Linked DNA regions of Homo sapiens: region 2 is linked to region 1. The links come from fine-mapping of genetic effects on gene expression. A gene starts in region 1. The other region holds a variant in brackets. All regions are shown on one strand. Distances are between the middles of the regions. Region 1 holds the start of VEZT (vezatin, adherens junctions transmembrane protein). Region 2 overlaps VEZT (vezatin, adherens junctions transmembrane protein).

What was found.
Region 2: its variant is fine-mapped to the expression of VEZT in whole blood (TOPMed, PIP above 0.99). The same link has a PIP of 0.9 or more in CD4 T cells, Th1/17 cells, blood mononuclear cells, esophagus muscle, follicular helper T cells and liver.

The regions. Positions count from the first base shown.
Region 1 is chr12:95,213,591-95,221,931 of GRCh38, forward strand. It overlaps VEZT (vezatin, adherens junctions transmembrane protein), which reads left to right and starts at 4,217. Exons shown (of 12, transcript NM_017599.4): 1 at 4,217-4,296. The coding sequence starts at 4,261. FGD6 (FYVE, RhoGEF and PH domain containing 6) reads right to left here and starts at 3,877. Exons shown (of 21, transcript NM_018351.4): 1 at 3,635-3,877. The coding sequence starts at 3,650. RefSeq lists enhancers at 380-459, 3,541-4,135, 4,136-4,731, 4,196-4,435, 5,036-5,085 and a silencer at 3,736-3,965.
Region 2 is chr12:95,289,516-95,297,856 of GRCh38, forward strand. It overlaps VEZT (vezatin, adherens junctions transmembrane protein), which reads left to right. Exons shown (of 12, transcript NM_017599.4): 10 at 4,757-4,857; 11 at 6,536-6,743. It also overlaps the pseudogene RNU6-808P. Among named protein-coding and RNA genes, the nearest start is that of MIR331, 15 kb to the right of the region's middle. The variant A/G (reference allele first, on the strand shown) is at 4,195.

The DNA of each region.
Region 1 (8,341 bases):
TACTTTCCGTATCTTAGAACCTTGTCAGAAGCTTTAGGGTCATTTAAATATCATTTTTAAAAAATCCCTGGTACCAATTTTACTCTTTTTAAAAAATGCGTTTTGTACACAAATCTGCTTCCAAGAGATATAAATTCCTGTTCTAGTGTCACAGAAATTCAATTAACTACGTATGTGCTGGAGTTGATTCCCAATAAATATAGCAAAGTCCTATTACGTACATAAAACCCTCAACGCATACTCACTGAATTCAATTAATAACTGTGAACTTGGGCTTGCCATTGTTAGTTAACTGTGTATTGAAGGAAGTCACAGACATAACTCAGGGAGCTGGCTAACCTAATTGTGGGCCTTGTACAGACCTGGCTGCCTCACTTTCCTTCCTTATAAATGGGGGAGTTGAACAGGCCTCTAAAGCCCATAGGAATCTGAGATGATAACTTCTGAGACACTCATTTCAGAAGAACCTCATGTACTGTGGCCTCTGTCTCCTGCGTTGATGTTTTTTCAGTTCACCTTTGTCTGTGTTCAGCATAAGACACAAGCTCCAGAAGGGCAGGCACTTTGTCTCATTCACTGATGTATCCCAGTGCTAACAACAGGGCCTGGGAATAATCACAGCTGCCACATACACATACTCTTTAATATGTCTCCATAACAGAAAATTTCTTCTTTAAAAATAATCACATTCAAAAATGTACATCCATTTTAATGTAGAATAATATTTTGAAAAGTTAGCAGGAATCAATTTCAATACGATTATTGAAAAATTCCTTAATTATTAATAGGAACAAGTGTTCAACTAAGTCACTGGTAGAGCAATATCCAAAATCCTTCATTATTTTTTTTTCATGGCTCTATTTTGGAAGAAACACAACTCAAAAAATAATAAGCCATTATATTATGGTCTACTCCAATGTGAAATAAGTGCATGACATTTGGCAATAAATCTAGCACCTTTGGATCTTAATACTGCATCAACAGTCAGACCCAAAGCTTCTTAGAGCAAAGCAGCAAATCTTTTATTTACACAGCTGTTTGGCTCCAGGGAAATATAAGGTAAGAAAGTAAAGCACTAGTACCATTTTACTAACTATTACAAACATACTCGTCATCTGTTACACACAGATGGCTGTGGTTCACGTGTACACTCTCTGGCTACTGGACCAGCCAAAACGCAAAGCACAGACAATGAAGACAGTGACCTGTACATGTTCAAAAGGACACAAAATATATACCTATATATACCTATAATTCTCTCTCCTTTTTTCTTTTTTTTTTTTTTTTTTTGAGATGGAGTCTTGCTCTGTCACCCAGGCTAGAGTGCAGTGGCTCGATCTCGGCTCACCACAACCTCCGCCTCGCTGGCTCAAGCAATTTTCATATCAGCCTCCCGAATAGCTGGGACTACAGGCGCACCCCACCACACCTGGCTAATTTTTGTATTTTTAGTAGAGACAGGGTTTTGCCATGTTGGCCAGGCTGGTCTCAAACTCCTGACCTCAAGTGATCCACCCGCCTTGGCCTCCCAAAGTGATGGAATTACAGGCTTGAGCCACTGCGCCCAGCCTCTCCTTTTTCATATACAGCTTAAAATAATTCTGAAATCTCCACTAAGGGCAGATTATTTTATAGATGTAGAAAAACAAAGCAAGCTTTTCTGCTGGATACATATAACCTAGATGTTCTACAACATTCCTTTTATTTTCTTAAATTAAACCAACCCTTCCAAATACCACAGATTAGATTCAAAAGCAAAAATCCCCTCCCTTAACTTCAAGTAACTTTCCTAAACGTTTCAATGAATTTGACTATTGTTCCCAAAAAGCACCATAATCAGCTTGTAAGAACTATGTATACATATAAGAATGGGTAGAAATAAAACCCCAGTTCTCTTCCATATTCCCCATCTAGACACCAGAAAGAATTATGATAAATCCAACAGATGGGTGAGCAAAAAAGTAGTTGATGCTTCTCAGCCAGCAATGCTAAAAACCAACCAACTCGGCTAGACACAGGAAGTGTCCCACTTTAAACACCACAAAAATTTCTGTGGATTTCTTTAATTGTAAAGTTGATAAAATACAAAAATAGCTTGCATTATTTTAGGATAATTCAAATGCAAGAATCATGAACTTCCAGTCTGGGCCCTAGAAATTGGGTTTACATAAATGTGAAATTACATGCTTCTGTGCCTGTTCCTTATAAACTGTTAAGACTGGAATTGAAAACTGATACATATAAGACACGGTTATTTTAAATACATTTGACACCTCCAAAAAGGAAAGAGCTAAAACTGGCTGGAAGGATTTTAAAATTTCCAACCACTTTTAATTTAAATCAATTTCTTGAACGAAGGTAAGGCACAGAAATGTAGGATGAAAATAATTTACCTTATGTAAGTATAAAGCCTCCCTTTGGCAAAGAAAAGAGAGTTTATAAAGATATCTCATATAAGTGCATATAACATCAAAAAGGAAAGACCCACACAACACCCACTTCTTGCTTTCTTTTCCTATTGGCTAACTTCTTGTTTCGTTTGTTGTAATCTGATCACAGGGAGCAATGCAACACTACAATATATCTAGGCTTTAGAAATAATACAAATCAGAACATTTGAGTGCTGTTGGACAGTTTCAAGTTGCAAGAATTTTAAACAAATGCCAAGAAAAGCAATGAAAATTTAATCTGATACTTAAGTGCTGATTCTGGAAGTAACCTTGAGAAGAAGCTTTAAACTATTTCACTATAAAATTTCTAATGAAAGTTTCAACGTGGACAAAAACGTAAAATAACCCATAACACTCTACTTAATACATAAGTTCTGGTTTAAAAATTAACCTATGTACTTACGAAGTGAACGTAACACCACTTTGGTAATTATTTTGTAAAACAGAAATTGTTCCTTAAGAATGTTCAGAAACACAACGTCTAGAATTGCTGAAAATCCACACAAAGATAGAGGCTTTGTCATTTGGATGAAGGGGAAAGAACTATGGGAGGCAGACAGAAAATAAAGCTTTGTTTACCCTAATCAGGTAGAAACAAACAAAATAATTGTAATTGGGTGCAGACAAGCAAAAAAAAAAAAAAAAAAAAAACCTCAACAATCTCAACTCCTCTGCTTCTCAGGTAACAGAGGTAAAACCACCAGGACATGACAATGTCTACGCCTCTTTAAAATGGGTAAAAGGTTTACCAGCAGATACAAGGTTGAAAGCGACTCACTTAGTGGCCAAATTGAACACGCTGAGAACACTGCCTTTACCTATAATAACTGATCTATTAACTTGGGAATCTACACTATTTTCACATGCAAAGGCGAAGTCCTCGCACTGCTGGAGAGATGAGCGAACGCCCTTCACACATCGCATTTCACCTGGTGCAGAGCCCCCAGCACAGTCCCCCTTGGAAGGGAGATCCCGAGAAATCCCGGGTTTCCAAACAGCCCCTCTGGGCAGGAAAAGACGAGAAAGCCGGCAGCGAATCCCATTAGCTCCGCGCTTGCCGAGGTGCTCGGCAAAGGTACGGGGCACACAACTCGCCCACCCCGGCGAAGAAAGTTGCTCGCGAGCCCAAGCCTAGCAGCGCTCGCCACAAACTTTCCCGCGGCAGCGCGAGCGCCGTCACTTACCGGCTGCAGAAGTCATGATTCCCCGGTGCAGCTCGCTTCCCCGCTCGGCCCCTCAATCCATCTTCCCCTTTCAGTCCATTGTTCCCACAGTTCGGGTAGGAGAGAAAAGCCCCCGCAGCGCCCACATTCCGTCCCGCCGCCCCGCGGCGCAGCCTGAGCGCCACACAAAGGACGCGGCCGACTCTAGCGACCCTGCGGCGCTCCCGGGCGCGAGCCGCCGGGGTCGGGCGGGCGAGCACTAGCACCGCCCCGCAGAGCGGCAGGCTGACAGCCAGGCGCGGGCACGAGCAGTGCTCTCTTCGGCTCCGCTGGCGCGTGCCCTTCTCGGGCTCCAAAAATCAGCAGTGCTCCGGGCGCCCCCTGCTAGTCGCGGCCGTAAAAGGCAGACAAAAGCCCTAGCCTCCTCCAATCGGAGGGCTCGAGCTTCAGCTCGCTCCCGCCTCTCTCGCTTACACGCTCACTCTCTTCTCCAATAAGCGGGCTCGAAAAGGGGGCGTGAGCGGCGAGGCATATTGGGAATTGTAGTTTTCTGGACCCACGGGACGGGCAGGAGCTGGAGCTCCGTGCCGCCTGTACTCCCGCCTTCATTTCCCATCGTGCTGAGGCGGGTGGCATGGCGGAGAAGGATGACACCGGAGTTTGACGAAGAGGTGGTTTTTGAGGTAAGAGGAAAATGGCGGTGGGTGTGGATTGCCTTTGTTTGAGAAGGACGAGACGGAAATCGAGGAAGCAAGGCGTTCCCGGGGCGAGGGATCGGGTGACGCGCTCCAGCTGGCCTCGACCACCGAACCCCAGCGATTTCAGGGCCTAGAGTCCGTCGTCGCCTGACAGGTGTAGCCAGAGGCGCCCTGGCCGTGGCCGGCCTCTATCTCGGGCCCGCCCAGAATTCCCAGACGGTGCCCGGTTGCCAGGCTCTGGGCTGGAGCGGTGTCTCTTCCTTCCTGGGAATGGATGTGCGGCGGGGGGGACTGCGCCCGGCTGGGGCGGGGCCGAATCGTGCCTTTTAGATAGTCACAACTTAGCCTCCTCCTTTTCCATCCGCGATTTTTTTGGGTCAGTATCCAGAGTGCTTCAGGTCACTGTTCACCGTCAAGGCGTGGCCCTCGGAATGAAGGCAGCAGGTGCCCGTTTTCTAACACGGTTTAAAGTCTATTTGTGGGACCTACTGTGGGTAGTTAGGGCCAGGGCATCTCAGCATCTAGATTCGATTCTTTTGTCCTTTGCTGTTGCGCTAGGTGTAGCCAGTTCTTCTGACTCGGGGCTCTAGATGTGAGTGCTTTTGTGTGGGACTATTTTAAGACGTTCTCTGCCATCTTGAATGAAAAAAATCGGGCGAGTGTTTTTGATGCCATTTTTTTCCATCAGACACAGGTCAAAACTCGCACCCCTGTACGTATGTGTATTGCATGTATACGCTTTACTTTCATTTATCCAACTAGATTTTAAGAAAATTTAAAAATGAAGTGGCCCATGCCATACAGCGAGAGAGCGAGGCACAGACAGGACAGAATGCTAAATGTTGAAATATGTACAAACTGTCATTGAAGGATTAATTTCTGTTCTTGCGGCCTCCCAGAGGCTACACCCAGTACGCGATATCCGAGGTGAATCTTTAACTATGAATTGGATTAGAAAAACCGGCAGGAGAAAATGTATTACAGGGAAAGAGAACTGATTATGCCAAGCTTGGGAAGTGTGAAAGTACCTGGTGTGCATTTTTAGGGGGCGGGGTGTGGAGGGTGGCTATGTAAAGTGGCTTGATGTGGCTGCAATGAAGAAGCAGTGGAAAATGTGGCCATTTTACCGAAGTGAAGAGTCTAGATATGAGGCGTTCATTAGGGAAGACAAGGGCCTGAGATGAAATGAGAGACGTAATGGAATAATGGCTTGGACAGACACTTGTAAGTTAAAATCGAGGCAATGTTTATAGATTGAATGTGGTAGCTGAAGGAGAGAGAAATATTTTCTAGAGTAAGGGTAACTGATGGGTGTATTTTTTTTACCCATTATTTTTGATTTCTGAATATAATAGTAATATATGCTCAAGGAACATTTTATTGTAGAAAATAAGCCCCCAAGTTAAAATCATCCATTATCCCACCACCCAAAGATGGTAACTATTAACAGTACGGTATGTGTTCTTATAGACTTTATTTCTATGTAAATGTGTGTTTATGTGTGTGTAATTTTTTAGCCTCTATATTAAGACACAATGTGTGTGTGATATTTTTTAAAACAAAAGGTATACCACGTAGAATTTTGTATATATTTTTCACTTGACTTTATCGTGAATCTTTTCCCATTCATCATTCTCTGAAAACATTAATATTATAATATCCCCTCACGTGTATCATAATATAACCTTTTTTTAAAAAAATACCATTGTAATCAACAGTGATATAAGCCTATTTTTAACTACAACTCTGATTTTCCTCAGAATAATTTTTAGAAGTAGAACTAGTGGGTGAAAGAATATGAACATTTAAGACTTACGCAGAAAGGTTATACCAATTCCGGTTTCCATTAAGAATAAGAGAGTATTGGTTTCACCAAATCCTCAACAACAGCCTTAACAGTTTCCTTTAATCTTTGCTAATTTGATAGGCAAAAATAACATTCCATTGTTTTAATTTACATTTTATGCATTTATACATTTATTAGCTATTTTTATTTCTTTGAACATTTCTCTTCATATTTGTTGCTCATTTTCTTATTAGATGCTAGCTTTAAAAAAATTGACTTGCGTGAGTTCTTCATATATTACTAAGCCTTTGTCATACTTGCAGAAAAATTTCCAGTTTGCTGTTTGTTTGCTCTTTGATATACACAATTTTTATTGCAGTATAATTTACATAAGGACAGGGCACAGATCACAAGTGTGTGGATGGTTATATTTTCACATGTTGAGCACACCCATGTAACCAGCACCCAGATCAAGAAACGGGACAGATGGGGCATGGTGGCTCACACCTGTAATCTCAGCACTTTGGGAGGCTGAGGCAGATGGATCCCTTGAACCCAGGAGTTTGAGATTAGCCTGGACAACATGGTGAAACCCTATCTCTACAAAAAAGACAAAAATTATTTGGGCGTGGTGGCACATGCCTATAGTCCCAGCTACTCGGGAGGCTGAGGTGGGAGAATCACTTGAGCCTGGGTAGGTCAAGGCTGCAGTGAGCCATGATCGCACCGCTGTACTCCAGCCTGGATGACAGAGCCAGACTCTGCCCCAAAAAAATAAAAAATGAAAAAAGAAACAACATCACCAGCACACCAGAAGCTCCCTCCTGGTCCTTTCCATCACTACTCCCTACCCCAAAATGATCACTATTTAAACATAATAACCTAGATTAATTTTGTCTATTTTTATTGTTTAGACACTGTGCATTTCCATTTATATACTCTCTTATTTCTGACTTTTTTTTTTCCTCTCTGGCTTTATTTGTGAGATTCGTCCATATTGTTAACATGAGAATTTTTATTTTGGCATAGTATTCCATGTGAATATATGATCATTTTTAAATTCATTCTTCTATTAATGGTCATTGAGTAGTTCCCAGGTTTAAACTAGTGCTACTGTGAACCTTTTTGTATGTGTTTGGTTAAACATATTTCTGGTGGATATATATGTAGGAATGGAATTGCTGGGTCATAGCAAATACCTAGATATTTCTGTAGATATTGCCAAACTTTATTCCAAAGTGGTTGTACCAGTTTATTCTCCAGCCAGGAATGTATGAGAGGTCCCATTGCCCCACATCCTCATCAACCCTTGCTAATTTTAGTGTTTTTCTTTTTATGATTCTAGGGGCTATGTCCTGGTATCTCCTTGTGGTTTTAATTTGTATTTTCTTGATAAAGATGTTAAGATTTTTAATGTGTTTATTAGCCAATTGTATATCCATTTTGTGAAGCCACGTCAAATTTCTTGCATATTTTTCTATTGGGTTGTTTCTTTTTCTTGCTGATTTGAAGGAATTATTTACATACACTGGATACAAGTCCTTTGTTAGAGATGCAGTTGGCCCTCCTTAGCTGAGAGTTCCACATCTGCAGATTGGACCAACCGTGGCTCACGCCTATAATCCTAGCACTTTGGAAAGCTAAGCCAGGCAGATCACTTGAGGCTAGGAGTTTGAGACCAGCCTGGCCAACATGGCGAAACCCAGTCTCTACTAAAAAATACAAAAACTAGCTGGGCATGGTGGCATGCACCTGTAGTCCCAGCTACTCCAGAGGCTGAGGCATGAGAATCGCTTGAACCCAGGAGGCGGAGGTTGCTCTGGGTGACAGAGTAAGATTCCATCTCAAAAAAAAAAAATAAAGGAAATACTCTGGCCCAGTGAGGTGGCTCATGCCTGTAATCCCAGCACTTTGGGAGGCTAAGGTAGGAATATTGCTTGAAGCCAGGAGTTTAAGACCAGCCTGGTCAACATTAACAAAACCCTGCATATTAAAAAAAAAAAAGAAAAAAATTAACCAGGTGTGGTGATGCATGTCTGTAATGCCAGCTACTCCACAGCCTGAGGCAGAAGATTGCTTGAGCCCAGGAATTTGAGGCTGCAGTGAGCTACAATTCCAGCCTGGGTGACAGAGTGAGACCATATCTCTAAATAAATAAATAAATACTCAAAAATATTCAAAAAATAATACAAATAAAAAAACTATACAGGATAACAACTATTTACATAGTGTTCACATTGTATT
Region 2 (8,341 bases), 76 kb after region 1:
ATTGTTAACCATTACTGTGAAAACTTTCTCCACCTCATTGGGTAGGTAATTAAGATAAGCCATTTTCTAATTATTTTCTGTATGTGTGGCTTTTGCTTATAGATAATAATGATATGGATTAAGACACAAATAGTTCACAAACTTTTTTCACTAAAAAATTCACAGTGGCCATGACTACACAGGTTTAAATTTAAAAAATGTTCATTTGAATATTTTAAGAAGCAGGTACTTTAGTTAGCCATATCTTTTTTTAAAAAGGTCTTATTTTGAAATCATTTCAAACTTACAGAAAAGTTGCAATAGTTGAAAGTCTCCTTCATCAATATTCCCTAGTTGTTGACATTCTGTCACAATTGCCTTATCTATGTATGTATCTGTATGTGTGTGTAATTCTTTTGATGGTGGTGTTACTCTGAGCCATTTGAGAGTAAGTTGTAGACTTGAAGCCCCATTACCCCTAAATATTTCTGTATGCATTTTTGTAAAACAGGAACATTCTCCTGTGTACCCACAGTATACCATCAAAATCAGAAAATGAACACCAACCATGATATTGTCATTTTATCCACAGAACCCATTCAAATTTCCCTGATTGTCCCAATATTTTTTATATGTCTAGACCTAGATTGTGCATGGTGTTCAGTTGTCATGCTCTTTATTCTCCTTTTCCTTAAAGTCTTTCATGATAAATATTTTGTAAAGAAATACTCTGAGGTTTTATAAATATGCTTTCTTCATCAAAATTTTAACCACTATGAATGCATATACCATATGACCCAGTAGTATCATTCCTACGTATTTAACCAAGAAATATAAAAACTTAGTGTTCACACAAAAGCCTATACATAAATATTTTGTTTATAAACTAAAACTAGAAGCAGCTAGGCTTTGGGAGGTGACTAAGCTGTTACATCCATCCATACAGTGAAATACTACTCGGCAACAAAAAAAGTGAACTACCAATGCATACAACACGATGAATGAATCTCAATACATTATGCCAAGTGAAAGACATCACATTCAAACCACTACATACTATGTTATTCCACTTATGAGGTACTCTTAAGTTGGCAAAGGAACAGAAAACAGATCAGTAGTTGCAAGGAATTGGAGATGGAGGGAGGAATGGCTTGTAAAATCTTTTAATGGCAATGGCATTTAGAAACCAAGATTAGGGTACTTGGCTTTGGCGGCACATGTATTGAAATTAGAATGATACAGAGAAAATTAACATGTCCTTTGTGTAAGGATGATGTACAAATTCATGAATCATTCCATATTTTATATAGAATTTATATAAATATGTATGTATACACATATACATATATATACACATATATATCTACATATATATTGTGGTAAGCTCAGGAAATCATTGAGAATAGGTTATAACTTTGGCATTACTCGAGGATTACCATAGAAAAGAATCTCCAGTTAATAAAGTTTCCCATTGTTAAAAATATCACAGGCCAGGTGCGGTGGCTCATGCCTATAATCTCAGCACTTTGGGAGCCCAAGGAGGGAGGATCACTTGAAACCAGTAGTTTGAGACCAGCTTGGGCAATATGGCAAAACCCCATCTCTACCAAAAAAAACAAAAAGTTACTTGGGAGGCTGAGGTGGAAAGATTGTTTGAGCCCAGGAGGTCGAGGCTTCAGTGAGCCATGATTGCACAACTGCACTCCATCCTTGGTGACACAGTGAGACCCTGTCTCAAAAATATATGTGTGTGCGCATGTGTATGTGTGTGTGTCACATTATTTTAAAACGCTTCATATTTATTACCTCTAGGGCCTTGTTATTCAGAGTGGTCCCCAGACTAGCATATAAGCATCACATGAGAGCTTGTTACAAATGCACCCCTGACTTTAAATCCACCTGTATTTTAATAAGATCTGGTAGTTGCATCCACGTTAAAGTGTGAGAAATTTGAGAAGCATTGCTCTGGGATAAAGGTCTGCAATTTTTTTCCTCTAAAGATTTTCTGCCTTGCAGGCCATATGGTGTCTGTTACAACTACTTTACTCTGCTGTTGTAATGTGAAAGCACCCATAGACTATACTTAAATGAGTGTGGCTGTGTTCTAGGAAAAATGTATTTACAAGAACAGGCAGTGGGGCAGATTTGGCAAGCCCCTGCTTTCAGACAGTAGAATTGAGGGATAAGGTCTTCAGGGAGCTTTTTTCACTTTATAACCTTCTGTGCTGTTTGTAAAAGCTATTACTGCAAGCATGTAATTAAAAATCTGGTGGGTTTTTAAAATTTTTTTAGGCTTTTTGTGTTTGTTTGTTTTTGAGACAGAGTCTCACTGTGTTGTGCAGGCTGGAGTGTGGAGTGCATTGGCGCAATTTCAGCTCACTGCAAGCTGTGCGTCCCAGGTTCAAATGATCCTCCTGCCTCAGCCTCTCGAATAGCTGGAACTACAGCCATGCACCACCATGCCCAGCTAGTTTTTGTGTTTTTTGGTAGAGATGGGTTTTCGTCATGTTGGCCAGGCTGGTCTCCAACTCCTAACCTCAAGTGATCAGCCCATATCAGCCTCCCAAAGTGCTGAGATTACAGGCTTGAGCCACCACATCCGGCCTCTTGCTAGATTTTTGTTAAATGGATTGCATGCTGGAGCTAGCTCTCCAAAGATTGTTAAATATTCAGAAATTTGTGAGTCAGTTTAACATCATTGGTAGCTTAAAATTGGTCACAGTGGGTGCATTTACACCATGGGAACTGGAAATCAGGAAGTGCTGCAAATTGGGTGTTTTGTTTTGTTTAGAGCTGGATTGCCAGCACACTGTTTAATGTACCTGTTTATTGCTATTAATAATAGTCTTATGGATTTATTTGGTTTTTTTTCTTTTCATTCAAAGAACTCGATATATGGTGTCACCATTGATGTAATGAAATCTGTGTTCTGCTAATTAGGCAATAATGGCAGTTTTTGAGCATGTAATCTGTAGCAGGCACTTTTCATGTATTCTTTTTTAATCTTACAAGATAGTACTATTATTTTCACCACTGTTCTACAGATAACTGTAATTTTTTTTTTTTTTTTTTGAGACAAAGTCGCACTCTGTCGCCCAGGCTGGAGTGCAGTGGCGCGATCTCGCCTCACTGCAACCTCCGCCTCCCAAGTTCAAGCAATTCTCCTGCCTCAGCCTCCCAAATAGCTGGGACTACAGGCGCATGCCACCATACCCAGCTAATTTTTGTGTTTTTATTAGAGATGGGGTTTCACCATATTAGCCAGGCTGGTCTCAAACTCTTGACCTCGTGATCCACCCACCTTAGCCTCCCAAAGTGCTGGAATTACAGGTGTGAGCCACTGTACCTGGCCCTTTTTTTTTTTTTTTTTTTTTGAGACAGAGTCTTGCTCTGTTGCCCAGGCTGGAGTGTAATGATGCAATCTTGGCTCACTGCAACCTCCATCTCCCGGGTTCAAACGATTCTTCTGCCTCAGCCTCCTGAGTAGCTGGGATTACAGGTACATACCACCATGCCTGGCTAATTTTTCTATTTTTAGTAGAGATGGGGGTTTCACCATGTTGGTCAGGCTGGTCTCAAACTCCTGACCTCATGATCCTCCTGCCTTGGCCTCCCAAAGTGCTAGGATTACAGGCGTGAGCCACTGTGCCCAGCCAGTTAACTATAATTTAAACTAGAAAGCAGCAAGAGCTGGGATGTAACCCAGGTGTGACTAACTCTACAGCTCTTAGCCACTGTGCTATTCTGTCTCTCATTAGTGCTTCCTATTAATTTATTCATCGTTCTGCCATCTTGCCTACAAACTAATCAGTCATTTTTTGTAACATTTCCCAAATACTTCTTTATTTTAACCATTTAACTATTGTTACTTTTGAAAATTAAAAATCAACAAGTTTAAACCATACTTCTTTTTTTTAAGTAGAAAGATAATGATTAATGATAGCCACCTGGATATGAGACTAAGTAACCCTGTCATTAAATACCAAACATAAATTTTAAGAATTAATCAAAGTTAAACTCACTTGGGTGATCTTTAAAAGATATTTCCTTGTGAATTCATTTCCAATTCCAACCTCTGAGTGTTAAAATAGCCTCAGGGTAAGTTTGAAGTTTGTATTTTGTGAAGAAGAGTGATGGTCTGTCTTAAGACTGTTCCTATGCTGTGAATGATAATATTTTGTTCAACAAGTACTTACAGAGTACCTGGTGTGTACC[A/G]GATACTGTGAAGAGGTGAAGAGAGAAGGGCAGGTCCTCTTCTCCAAGAGTTTAAAGACTTAAAGTTAAGTTGTAAATCTACTAATTTATTGTTTTTCACTTTAATATCTTTATGTTTTTATAAATACAAAGTTATTAGAACAAGTTGGACTATGAAATTGACAAAGTATTAGTACCAAGGATTTTTTTGGTTGGGGGAGACAGGATCTAGCTCTGTTGCCCAGGCTGGAGTGCAGTGGTGTGATCACTGCTCACTGTAGTCTTGATCTCCCCAGCTCAAGCGATCCTTCCACCTCAGCCTCCCAAGTAGCTGGGATTACAGGTGTGCACCACCATGCCCAGCCAATTTTTATTTCAGTTTTTGTAGCGACAGAGTCTTTGTTTCCAGGCTGGTGTTGAACTCCTGGGCTCAAGCGATCCTCCTGCCTCAGCCTCCCGAAGTGCTGGGATTACAGGCATGAGCCACCACACCTGGCCCCAAGGGTGTTTTTAATTAGATGTTCACTCATTTCTGTGTGGTCTGTTTCTTATCTTTATTCCCATCTATTCCCGTTTTTTAAAGGCAAGCCTGAAATAGCATGTGAAAACCCACATTGTACAGTAGTACCTTTGAAGCAGCCTACTCTACACATTGCAGACAAAGATCCAATCCCAGAGGAGCAGGTAAGGGTGAAAATTACTGTTCTTTCCCTTGTTGGATTTCTGTTTCTAATGAGCTTCAAAATTACAACATAATATATTGAATTTATATCAGATCATTAGTTCTTAGTGCTTAACTCTGAATTCATTGAATCTGCCTGCAGACTTTTTTTTGATTGTTATTTATATCTAATTGTCTATATCTGAGTGGCTTTCAAAAGTGATTAAACACATTGAAAATTAGTACATTGGCAAAGCTACCTTTTGGGATGCTGGAAATGTGTTTATCTTGATCTGAGTAGCAGTTACTGGTATGTGTACATATGTAAAAATCCTGTGCACTTGACTGCATGTACTATGATATACCTCACTTTTAAAAACAATTTTTTAATGATCGCATTGGATATTGACAAAGGTTACTTTTGTTCATTGTAAGGAAAACCTCTTTTCCTTAGGTCATATTATCTATTCAGTATTTTTTTTCCGTGTATATTGCATAACAAGTTACTATTCAGTATTCTTAATTGCAAATGGAAACCAACCCTAGTTAGTTTAACAGACAGATACTTTATTTAAACTTTTAGGTAGCTTACAGAATATTTCAGAGAGCTAGATAAGCAGGCTTGAATGATGCTAGGGTAAACAGCCAAATCACTCAAAAGAACTGTTGCAATGGAACTATCATTGCTAAGTTAATGGGTGGAGACATTGCCCCTTGCTTCGTCAATGCTGAATAGTAAAACTTAACCTCCAGAAGTGCTACTTCAAGAAACATATCTGCAACATCCTGCCAGAATAGATTTTCCAAAGTGCTTGGTTCTTTTTTATATGAGACCGAGTCTCACTCTGTGGCCCAGGCTGGAGTGCAGGGGCGCGATCTCGGCTCACTGCAACCTCTGTTGCCCGTGTTCAAGCGATTCTCCTGCCTCAGCCTCCTGAGTAGCTGGGATTACAGGTGCCTGCCACCGCGCCTGGCTAATTTTTGTAGTTTTTAGTAGAGACAGGGTTTCACCATCTTGGCCAGGCTGGTCTTGAACTCCTGACCTCGTGATCCGCCTGCCTCAGCCTCCCAAAGTGCTGGGATTACAGGCATGAGCCACCGCGCCCGGCTGGTGCCTGCTTCTTTTATCTCAGACTTCTAAGTCCGATCTGATGCAGGTACGTCGATTAGAGAATCCCAGGTCATTTACCTGAGCCTATACTGTAAGGATACTGCTTGGGTAAGCAAGCATCCTACCCTCTCTGTCTTAGAGATAGGGAGAACCATAAGGTGGGGTGTTCCCTAATCCTAGGAAGAATGTTCAAACTTCCTGGGAAATCTGAAAGAACCACAAGAAAACAAACATGCCTGACCACCTCCCCAAAGTGCCAGCCCTTCTAATTTTGATTGGTTTTGATATAGCTAATGGCTGTAACACTAAGTGTATGGTATGTTACCAGAGTAGAAAAATAACTACTGAAGTTGTTAAACTTTTTTTATCCACAATGCTTTTTAGTATCAACTGTTAGGTTGTTTTTGAAGATTTCAATTTATCCATAGGTATATATTTGCTTTTTTCTTTTCCTAGCTCTGCTTTAATGACCTGTGCCAAATGCAAGTCCTTTTTTTTTAATCTCAGAGATAAGTAAGTGCAAGTAAATGAATGCTTACTAGAGAATTGTTTGCTTCAAGTAAAGTGCTTTTTCTTCTATTCATTTTCAGGAATTAGAAGCTTATGTAGATGATATAGATATTGATAGTGATTTCAGAAAGGATGATTTTTATTACTTGTCTCAAGAAGACAAAGAGAGACAGAAGCGTGAGCATGAAGAATCCAAGAGGGTGCTCCAAGAATTAAAATCTGTGCTGGGATTTAAAGCTTCAGAGGCAGAAAGGCAGAAGTGGAAGCAACTTCTATTTAGTGATCATGGTAAGCACTGACTTTAAAGTAACAGGTTATTTCAATGTAGGGGATTCTTTCTTTCTTGAACCATGAATGTTATTTTAGCTGAAGAATTCTTGGGGTTTTATAAGGGTCCACCAGTATGCATAGTACTTTTTCTTCTAGATGCTAAATCAATTTGATTAATAAAAGAGTAGGAATGTAACCACATTGGAAATATGAAGTCATACTTTTTTATGAGTTATTTAATTTTTTAGTAAATTTGTTTTAGAATGGGCAGTGAGTTGAATAATTTGGGATATTTTAAATGTTATTTTCAAATTTAGTGAATTTGAGATTCTCAACTCTGTTGTCCATATGTTAAAATATTTAAAAATACCTCAGTGAAGCACAAAATTAATAACTGTGCTCACATTGAAAAAAATGGCCCAGGCGCAGCGGCACATGCTTGTAATATCAGCACGTTGGGAAGCTGAGGCGGGTGGATCATTTGAGGTCAGGAGTTCAAGACCAGCCTGGCCAACATGGCGAAACCCCATCTCTACTAAAAATACAAAAATTAACAAGGCATGGTGGCGCGTGCCTGTAGTCCCAGCTACTCGAGAGGCTGAGGCAGGAGAATCACTTGAACCCGGGAGGCGGAGGTTTCAGTGAGCCAAGATCACGCCACTGCACTCCAGCCTGGGCAACAGAGGGAGACTCCATCTCAAAAAGAAAAAAAGAAAGAAAAGAAAAGAAAAGAAAAAAAAGGAATTAAAACCTAGACCAGTGAGCCACATCATTAGCATTATTTAAGTGGTTTGAGCACTTTAGTAGATGGGAGGGGAGCAGGGTGCCTGTGGGCGTACTCCCCATACTCTGATTTCAGCAGAGTGGGGTAGCTGGTAATACAAAAGCCTTACATTCCTTTCTGTTTCTCACCCTTCTTTTCTTAAGTCAAACTTCATGGGAGACAGGGAAGGAATCAGGGGAAGCTTAATACTTGACAGTATCAACCTAGCTAATTCTTAGTTGAATTAATGCCTATGGATTTCTAAGTAGGTAGAGTGTGGATTCTCTTCCATTTTACAGTATCTGTGTGGACCCTCGAAATCAACTGCCCTGCTTTTCCCTCCTCACTAGAAGTACATAGATTACCTATACTTCTGGAAAGTTCCTCCAGTTCTCTTTTTTTTTTTCCCCTCAGGAGCCCTATGTTTTCTCCTGTCCAGATCTGCATTTCTTGGTTTTATCATTCCTCTTTCTTCCCATTGGCCCCCTTTATAGCCCAGGTCCTCAGTAGATTATCCTTGTACATTAAAATACCTTCTTAGCTGACTTCCATTTTCAGTACTTTTTTCTTCTAAGCTATCTTGCAAACTCTTTGCAGATTTTTCTCCAACACTGCATTGATGATGGCTCTCTATCTTAAAACCTATAGTGGTTTCTCCCTTTCTTATTGTGTTGAATCTAAACTCTTTTTCCTGTTTTCAAGTCTCTTCATCATAAGAATTCATCTATCCAATTATATTTTCTACTGTTTTTACTATAGATATCTTCTTATGTTTATCGAATTAAACTACAGTTCACAAATGTGTTATTTTTATTCATGAAAAAAATTCATGCTGGCCAAGCACAGTGGCTCA